Linked DNA regions of Homo sapiens: region 2 is reported to be linked to region 1. The links are microRNA targets in miRTarBase. Many come from high-throughput screens and were not tested one by one. Region 1 holds a microRNA gene; the other region holds the end of a gene's coding sequence.

Region 1 (5,177 bases):
TGTATGTGTTTGTAATACTAAACTATTTATTTTCATCAAAATAGGTAGAAAGGGAGAAATCTTAGCCTATTCCCTAAATGGCAAGTTTAGTTATAATTTTTTTTTTTTTTTTTTTGAGACGGAGTCTTGCTCTGTCGCCCAGGCTGGAGTGCAGTGGTGAGATCTCCACTCACTGCAACCTCCGCCTCCCGGATCCAAGTGATTCTCTTGCCTCAGCCTACCAAGTAGCTGGGACTACAGGTGCCCGCCACCACACCCGGCTAATTTTTTTGTATTTTTAGTAGAGACAAGATTTCACCATATTGGCCAGGCTAGGACTAGTTGGTCTCAAACTCCTGACCTTGTGATCCACCTACCTCGGCCTCCCAAAGTGCTGCAATTACAGTCATGAGCCACCATGCTGGGCCTATAATTTTTTAGAGTTAATATTTTTATAATACTCTTTTCAAAAAAAAAACACCTTGCTGAATGTAGATAGCAAATGTCATAGGAGAAATCTGATACCTGAGAGAGTAGTACATAGTTTCAGAACCAAGGTTGAGAGTTATGCTCTGGGATCTGCTTCTAAATGATCTGACTGCCATATCAGTGAGTCAGGGAGGAAGTGTAGCAGATATCCACTTGATTTGGTTTCTTACTGTCTTGTCACCCATGTGCATGTGTATTGTAAACTAGCTGTCATTTAGCAGCCCTGTGATATACTGCTGGCCGAGTTTCGTAAGAAAGCTTCTATGTTTGTATAGATTTTAGATTATCATTCGCTTTATTTAAGAAACATTCATTAAGTACTTTCAGTGTGTCAGGAACCTTGGTAGCCAAAGGACAAATGACATAAAAACCACACAGATGGCCTCTTTCTTGAGCAGCTTTTGTTGGAAATAATTTATGACTAATATTATGATGGAGTGAGATGGTGTCTTACTAGTAAGACCAGAAATACTTAAATTCTAATTCAACCAATTCTTGAGATCCCTTAGGGAGCTAGGTATACCAAAATTCAAGTTAGAATTTGTTGGCTTAGGCATAGGCCCCTGCCTCACAATCCAGAGAACTAGGTTATTCTATATGGAATATGCCTTTTTCCTTTACCAGCTAAACCTGACTTTCCTTTCTACGTGTTAGCTTAAATTCAAGTCGTCTCAAATTTTACTACTCTACTAAGGCAAAAAACTACTGGTACTAAAAGAAAATGAGCAAGAAATGTCCAACAAGCTAGATCTTGTTGAATAGTTAGCAATTCAGATGTCTTACTACCTACCAACAAACTGTCCCCCTCCATTACCTTGGCCCAGTTTCTATATTTGGAAAAAAAAAAAAAAAAAAAAGCAGAACAAAAAAGGAATAAGAAAGATGGCTTGGCTGCTCCAAGCAGCCTTGGAATGTTTTACCTCTGGTAATGTGGAAGAAAAATAAAAGAACGGCCATCCTCAGTCTGTTTCACCATAATGTGTAGTTACAATACCAAGAAATTTTGAGTTATTAAAAAAATTATTTTACAAAGCAGTTTCATTGGTAAGAAGGATTAAAGACTAAAATCTGTAAGATGAATAGACTTTTGTCAGACCAAGGGAGATGGAGGTTTGGGGTGGGAGAATGTGTTGGATTCCAGCTATATTATTCAAATGCTCGGAGACACAGAACATTAGAGAAGACAGGAGTTCACTGTAGGTGATGGTGAGAGTGGGCATGGAGCAGGAGTGCCAAGAGATGAAGTTATAAAACTAAGCAGGAGTTAGATCATGAAGAACTTTATGTACTATGCTAAGAAATACTGACCTTATTGTGAATGTATGGAGGGCCCATTGGCTTTTTGGGGAGCTAGGTCTGCAATATGAATATTAGAAGGGGCAAAACTGGTGATAAGGGCTTGCACTAGTGTACAAGCAATAGGTATGGTGAAAATGGAGACATTTGAGATATTTTGAAGAGGTAGACTTAACAGGGACTTATGATCAACATAGATAATGTATATGGTGGAAAGAGAATAGCTTTTTGAGTTGGATAAGTGTGGGTTCAAATCCCAGCTCTGTCACTTTTCCATTTTAGGATCTTGGATGTTTTACATACCCCTGAGAACCTTAGTTTTCTCATCTTAATTGGGACAGTAAGCTGGGTGCCATGGCTTGTGCCTATAGTCCCAGCTACTTGGGAGGCTGAGGCAGGAGGATCACTTGAGGTCAGGAGTTTGAGTGTAGCGTGGGCAACATAGTGAGACATAATCTCTAAAAGAATTTTAAAAATTAACTAGGTGTGGTGGCATGCATCTGTAGTCCCAACTACTCAGGAGGCTGAGGCAGGAGGATTGCTTGAGTCCAAGAGTTAGAGGCTACAGTAAGCCATGATTGTGCCGCTGTACTCTAGCCTGGGCAAGAGAGCAAGACTCCATTTATTAAAAATAAAAATTTGGGACAGTAATATTTAGCCCATAGGGATGTGAAACAATATATGGAAAACATCCAGTAAAGTGCCTTACCACATAGTAGATATAAAACAATAGTTGCTCTTGTTGTCAGGGTGAAGGAGATAGAGAGGAATCAAGAATGACTTCCAAATTTTCTATTTGAATGGTGAAAAAGAGCTATATTAGGAAAGTGGGCTAAGCTATCTGGTTCTTAGATTGCTTGTGAGGATTCAGGTGGAAGTGTTCACTGGCAGTTGATAGTAAGAGTATGACACTTCTGAGTGGAAGGCACAGATCTGTGAGTTAATCAGCTTACACATAGCAGTAAAAGTTATGAAAGTAGATGAGGTCCCCCAAGAAGAGAGTTAGAATGAGAAGTCAGAACCCTGGAGAGTGGCCTAGGAAGAGTAGAGGGTGTATTTTGTTTGATTGTTTGTTTGTTTGTTTGTTTTTGAGAGGGACTTTCTCTGTCACCCAGGCTGAAGTTGAAGTACAGTGGTGCCATCACGGCTCACTGAAGTCTTGATCCCCAGGGCTCAAGTGATCCTCTCACCTCAGCACCTCATTCTCATGAGTAGCCAGGACTACAGGCACATGCCACCATGCCTGGCTAATTTTTTAATTTTTTTAAGAGATGGCATCTCACTGCGTTGCCTAGGTTGGTCTTGAACTCCTGGGCTCAAGCAGTCCTCCTGCCTCGGCCTCCCAAAGTGCGGGGATTACAGGTGTGAGCCACTGCACCTGGCTGATAAATCTTTTCAGAAAGTGACATAAATTTAGATTTAAGTGCTGATTTTAAAAAATTGCTAAGGCCATGCATGGTGGTGCATGCCTGTAATCTCAGCTACTTGGGAGACCAAGGCAGGAGAATTGCTTGAGCCCTGGAGTTCAAGACTGGTCTGAACAGCAGAGTGAGACCCCCATCTCTTAAAAAAAAAGAAAAAAAAAAGCAACCAAACAAAAAGGAGCTAACAGAGAAGAAGGGGTTTCTGAAATGTAGGAAGTTAGCTCACAGAGTCAAAATTGAATAAGGATGGAGTGGCGAGTGGTGTCAAATGCAGCAGAGCAGTCCTGTAATGGTCACTGAAAAAATGCACAATAGATTTGGTCATTAGAAGGAAGACTGTGAACCAGGAGCTGAGTAAGTCCTTGTGGTAGAGTGCTTTGAATGCCAGACTTTGGTCGGTGGAAGAATGATTAAATGTTATTGAGCACGAAAGTGAGATGATCAGAACACTACTTTTTTATTTTTCTGGCAGCAGTGTGAAGGATGAGAAAGGAGGGAAAGCTCAATTTAGGTTGGTAGAGGCACAGATTGAACAAGGGCTTGGATCAAGATGATAATCTTGCTTGGAAACAGGTTAGCGTAAGAGCTGTTAGGCAGTAGTGTCTTCAAAATTTGGTCATCACTGGATGTAATGAGTAAAGAAGTAGCCTAAAAGATGACATTTTAAGGTTTTCAGTGTGGATAACAAGGAGAATAGGGGTAGCATTTACTGAAACAGGGACATTAGCAGAAGCAAGACTGGAAGATGAAATCATTTTTTATTTTTAAACTTTGATTTATTAAGCATATGCTATTGAGTGGCACTGTTATTGAGTTATTAGGCACTGTTACGGTACTAGAGATACAGCAGTGAACATAATAGGCAAGATCCCTACTTTCATGGCACTTTACCTTCAGAAGTGAGGTGAAGACCAAATTATAAAAGGACAAAGTAATTTAAGACAAATAAGACAAAACTAGGTGATGATACAGTGATATATTGAGGGGAGCTTTTAGATGGGATGGTCAGGAATGGCATTTCTAAAGAGGAGAGATTTGAACTCAGACCAGAATATTACAAAGGAATCAACTATGCAAAGATCTGGGTGCAAAGGCATCCCCACTTAGACTGGAGAGTATATGCAAAGTCCCTAAGAAGGAAATGAGCTTGATTTATTTGAGGGCCAGAAGAGAGGCCAGTATATCAGGTGCAGAGTGAGCAAGGGAGAGACTAATAGAGATGAGCTCTGAGAAGTCAATAGAATTAAACTTAAGTGGGGCCTCGGAGGTCTTGCTCTGGAGTTTGGTGGCTTACTGATGGCAGTGGAAATAAAGCAGTATGTTGAACTTAGCTGTCTGTGAAACATCTAGATGAAGTCAATTAACGGGCTTCAATATACAAACTCAAATATAATTTGCCTCTGTTATTCATTGAAATAACTTTCCAAGTTGTTTAGGCATTGAACAAAGAAATGCTCACAATATGGAGGCTTGAGGAGTGTGTCAAGGACATGGTCAGGGGACCAGAGGGATCAGGAATCTCTAGCAGTTCTTCCCCACCCCTCACCCCCAGACTTAGCTTTGACTTGAAACTCATCTAGCAGTTCTTTACCAAAATAAAGGTCATCTTAAATATTATTGCGACCTTTAAAGTAATGACTGTTATATAAATGTTATGAGAAAAGTAGTCAGAGAATCACGGCCAAAAATACCTGTGTCTTCAGGGGATGTAAAGGGTACTTACCAACTTAAAATACCTGCAGCTCCATAGGGACCATGCTGTAGATTTTGTATAGTGCTTGTTCAGACAGTACTCTCATTTCTAGAAATGCATTTTTTGCAGTAAACAAAGTGTGTGTATCACTGTGCTTCTTGGTACACAAGTAGTTTGAATAGATTTTGTAGCCAAGGTCATCCTTAAGCCATCTAGTTTTACTGAATACATGTTCAAAAACACTGAAACAAAATAATTATACCTTTTGTTTATGTATTGCTTTATAATTTATATAG
Region 2 (5,000 bases), not on the chromosome of region 1:
GTGCAGCTTTTCTAAAAAGTCTAAAAAGACTTTGCCATCACTGGATAAGCCTTGTTAGAGTGTGTGTGTGTGTGTGTGTGTGTGCGCGCGCACGCATGCGTGCGCTCTGCATTTTCTCTTTGGAAATGATCAGGTTGTGTGTGCATCATTAATGCCTATTCACCCACACAGTGAGGTTTGTTTCACAGTCAGAGATCTTAGAGCTTGGCACTTTTTACAAATAGGATTTCTTCAGTTCCCCTTCCTTTTGTCCAGCTTTGCATCTTGCCAGTGGCTCCTGCCCTGAGTTCTAAAGTTTCGAAGGCTTAAGTGGCCAGGGTCAGGTCAGTGGCACTGTGTGCAATGCAGGGAAAGGCCCCCACTTGCTGGGGGCAGGGGATAGTAACGCCGGCTTCATTTCTCCTGCCCTGGGTCTGCCCAGGAGCAGCTCTGGCCCTGGCTGCACAGACCCGTTCATTAGCTCCCATGTATTTCACTACCAGGATTGTAACCGCTTCTCACCTTCTCGTCTCTCCTCTGTGTCCCCCTCTTCTGCCAGGCGGGTGCCCCGGTGATGACTGGTGCGGGAGAGAGCACCAATCCCGAGAACAGCGAGCTCAAGTATTCGGGTCAAGATGGGCTCTACATAGGCGTCAGTCTCGCCTCGCCGGCCGAAGTCACGTCCTCCGTGCGACCGGATTCCTGGTGCGCCCTGGCCCTGGCCTGAGCCCACGCCGCCAGGAGGCAGGGAGGGCTCCGCCGCGGGCCTCACTCCACTCGTGTCTGCTTTTGTGCAGCGGTCCAGACAGTGGCGACTGCGCTGACAGAACGTGATTCTCGTGCCTTTATTTTGAAAGAGATGTTTTTCCCAAGAGGCTTGCTGAAAGAGTGAGAGAAGATGGAAGGGAAGGGCCAGTGCAACTGGGCGCTTGGGCCACTCCAGCCAGCCCGCCTCCGGGGCGGACCCTGCTCCACTTCCAGAAGCCAGGACTAGGACCTGGGCCTTGCCTGCTATGGAATATTGAGAGAGATTTTTTAAAAAAGATTTTGCATTTTGTCCAAAATCATGTGCTTCTTCTGATCAATTTTGGTTGTTCCAGAATTTCTTCATACCTTTTCCACATCCAGATTTCATGTGCGTTCATGGAGAAGATCACTTGAGGCCATTTGGTACACATCTCTGGAGGCTGAGTCGGTTCATGAGGTCTCTTATCAAAAATATTACTCAGTTTGCAAGACTGCATTGTAACTTTAACATACACTGTGACTGACGTTTCTCAAAGTTCATATTGTGTGGCTGATCTGAAGTCAGTCGGAATTTGTAAACAGGGTAGCAAACAAGATATTTTTCTTCCATGTATACAATAATTTTTTTAAAAAGTGCAATTTGCGTTGCAGCAATCAGTGTTAAATCATTTGCATAAGATTTAACAGCATTTTTTATAATGAATGTAAACATTTTAACTTAATGGTACTTAAAATAATTTAAAAGAAAAATGTTAACTTAGACATTCTTATGCTTCTTTTACAACTACATCCCATTTTATATTTCCAATTGTTAAAGAAAAATATTTCAAGAACAAATCTTCTCTCAGGAAAATTGCCTTTCTCTATTTGTTAAGAATTTTTATACAAGAACACCAATATACCCCCTTTATTTTACTGTGGAATATGTGCTGGAAAAATTGCAACAACACTTTACTACCTAACGGATAGCATTTGTAAATACTCTAGGTATCTGTAAACACTCTGATGAAGTCTGTATAGTGTGACTAACCCACAGGCAGGTTGGTTTACATTAATTTTTTTTTTTGAATGGGATGTCCTATGGAAACCTATTTCACCAGAGTTTTAAAAATAAAAAGGGTATTGTTTTGTCTTCTGTACAGTGAGTTCCTTCCCTTTTCAAAGCTTTCTTTTTATGCTGTATGTGACTATAGATATTCATATAAAACAAGTGCACGTGAAGTTTGCAAAATGCTTTAAGGCCTTCCTTTCAAAGCATAGTCCTTTTGGAGCCGTTTTGTACCTTTTATACCTTGGCTTATTTGAAGTTGACACATGGGGTTAGTTACTACTCTCCATGTGCATTGGGGACAGTTTTTATAAGTGGGAAGGACTCAGTATTATTATATTTGAGATGATAAGCATTTTGTTTGGGAACAATGCTTAAAAATATTCCAGAAAGTTCAGATTTTTTTTCTTTGTGAATGAAATATATTCTGGCCCACGAACAGGGCGATTTCCTTTCAGTTTTTTCCTTTTGCAACGTGCCTTGAAGTCTCAAAGCTCACCTGAGGTTGCAGACGTTACCCCCAACAGAAGATAGGTAGAAATGATTCCAGTGGCCTCTTTGTATTTTCTTCATTGTTGAGTAGATTTCAGGAAATCAGGAGGTGTTTCACAATACAGAATGATGGCCTTTAACTGTGGCTCCCTGAGTGTACAGTATTTTTTTACTTCTTTTCATGCACTTATTACAGTCATTCTATGGGGTTCAGTCTGAATCTTTCAAGAGAAGGAATGTCTTCCTTAGTCCTGGTGAATGCTACTCTATAGAGGGACAGTGTCCATAGCCAGTGTGTGTGTGTGTGTGTGTTTCTGGGTAATTCAGTAAGGCCCACGTGCACCCTGATATCATAAGGTGGGCCAGAACAATGGTTAAGAGTGTTGGGTATGCAGGCAGATCACTAGGCTTCAATTCCCTGCTTGGCCGTGGATAAGCTCTGTGACCTTGGGCAAGTTATCCAGCTCTCATCTTTCTAATATAAAATAAAGGCAAATAGTATATAAATCACAGGATTAAGTGAGATAGTCCATGCCAAGTGCTTAGCACAATACCTGGCACATATTAAGTACTAACTTGACTTTGAAAGAGAGTGGCATGATTTGCAACATAGATCCTTTGAATAATGTCTGACTACCTGGAATATCAGAAGTTTATGGTCTGTAAGAGTGATGTCCTGTGGGTCACCTGTGCTTCTTCAACAAGGCCAAGAAGAGTGAAATGAAAGACTCCCTCTAATCCAGGGGGTTGCAGAAATGGAGGGAGGATGCATGAGAGCTGATTGTTTTATAATAGAACAAGGCTGTTCTGACAACAGAAGAAAATTATTATCCCCACGAACTGATGTCTGTTTTCCTCCCTCCTTTTATGGTTCTCATTACTTTGAGTGCTTTTTGGTGGGTTGGGAGTTGTTAAAGTTAATATGGTTTGATTGGAAAATGAATTTTTCTTTTTGGGGCTTCCAAATGACCCTTTTTCTGGGATAATCTCAAATATTGCTCCTTCCAATTCTAAAAAGAATTCTAGTTTTTATGAAACAAATTACAGTGGGCAGAAGACAGAGGGGGCTTCTTGTAGCCTGTCCTAACACAATGAACTCCACTATCTGTTTTTAAATGATTACTTTCTTACCTATGATTGCATAAAGAAGTTTGTTAAATTTGCTCCAAATACACAATTTCAGCACTCCTCTCCCAAAGTATGACATGTGCAACTGAACATGACCCAATCATTTCTCAAAAGGGAATGCATTCAAATAGATGCTGCACCTCAGCTTAAAGAATCCCCAGACCGTATATCGTGGACTGGAGAATTTATGTCTTCTGTCACACATGGCTGATTTGAGGCCATCTTAAATAAGTGAAGGCTCTGTCTGGGGTCTCTTTTCAGGGTCACTTAATGTTGTTTCCTGGTGCTTATGGGAGGGTCAGGAAAGCAAAGGGAACCATTCATTTCCCAGTGCAAATAAATTAACTTCTTGCTCATGGGAAATGTTTTTCACAGTCCTTGGAAATTTGATGTAATTTCAGATCACAGATAAATTGGCTGCTTTGCTGGGAGGGCAACCCAGCGAGTCTTCAATGCTGTGCCAGATTCCAGGGTGAGTTCAGGTTGGAGCAGTGTAGTGGGGAGAAAGGTGGCAGGCAGAAGCAAATATTTTCAGAATCAGGCAGTGCTGGCTTATTAAGATGCTTCTCTCTCTCTCTCTCTCTCTCTCTCTCTCTCCCTCCCTCCCTCTCTCTCTCCCTCTCTCTCTCTCTCCCCCTCCCTCCCTCCCTCCCTCTCTCTCCCTCCCTCCCTCTCTCTCTCTTTCTTTTCTTTTTCTTTCTTTCTCCCTTCCTTCCTTCCCTTCCCTTCCTCCCTTCCTTCTTCCCTTCCCTTCCCCTTCCTTCCTTCCTTTCTTTCTCTTTCTTTCTTTCTTTCTTTCGCTCTCTCTTCCTCCCTCCCTCTCTTTCTCTCTCTTTCTTTTTCTTTCTTTCCTTCTTTCTTTCTTTCTTTTTCTTTCTTTCTCCCTTCCCTTCCCTTCCCTTCCCCTCTCCTCCCCTCCCCCCCTCTCTTTCTTTCTTCTTTCTTTCTTTCTTTTTTTCTTTCTTTCTTTGAGACAAAGTCTGGCTGTGTCACCCAGGCTGGAGAGCAGTGGCACAATCATAGCTCACTTGCAGCCTCAACTTTCTGGGCTCAAGTGATCCTTCCCCCTCAGCCTCCCAAAGTGCTAGTATTATAGGCGTGAGCCACTGCACCTGGCTAAAATGCATTTTGTTTCTGGGTTGAAATACTAGCAAGTCAGTGTGGCAATACTAGTTATCTTCTGTTGCTTGGGAGCTCTAATTGGCAGTCAGATATGCTTTGATTATTTTAAATGGGAAACATATTAATAAACTTGCTAGACCAAATCTTTCAGAATAGGGTCTGTGGGAAAAAATGTGGTACCTACAGGTCTGGCTGCTTGAGGCTCCTGGATGGATTCTGTGTGGCTGAACCTTCAGCAGCTGCATTCTGAGAAGGCCACTTCGCTTATGACCTTCTGGTGGGGCTGGGATCAGGCAGGAGAAGGTGATAGACATCAGTAGGACAGGCAGAAGAGGAGTCAAAGGGTGTTTTCAGTTGGTTCAACTTCAAGATAAAGGATGCCAGAAAGTCTTAGTTTATAGGGACTTTGGATAAATATATTGTGGTTGATAGTTCCAAATTGCTTCTAAGGAAAGTTAGGACGTTGCAGGTGCGTGTCTGCACC

Evidence for each region. The annotated mature microRNA hsa-miR-1183 reads CACUGUAGGUGAUGGUGAGAGUGGGCA and lies in region 1 at 1,661-1,687, shown strand. An mRNA with a match to its seed (bases 2 to 7 or 8) in the 3' UTR can be bound and repressed. Matches are read on the target gene's strand: a 7mer-m8 pairs with bases 2 to 8, a 7mer-A1 pairs with bases 2 to 7 and ends in A, and an 8mer does both.
Region 2: the mRNA of GATA6 is a reported target of hsa-miR-1183. The part of its 3' UTR that is shown has no 7-base or 8-base seed match.

Annotation. Positions count from the first base shown.
Region 1 is chr7:21,469,445-21,474,621 of GRCh38, forward strand. It overlaps MIR1183 (microRNA 1183), which reads left to right and starts at 1,614; the gene lies at 1,614-1,702. All of the region lies in intron 3 of SP4 (Sp4 transcription factor), which reads left to right.
Region 2 is chr18:22,200,118-22,205,117 of GRCh38, forward strand. It overlaps GATA6 (GATA binding protein 6), which reads left to right. Exons shown (of 7, transcript NM_005257.6): 7 at 539-2,411. The coding sequence ends at 706. Among named protein-coding and RNA genes, the nearest start is that of GATA6, 33 kb to the left of the region's middle.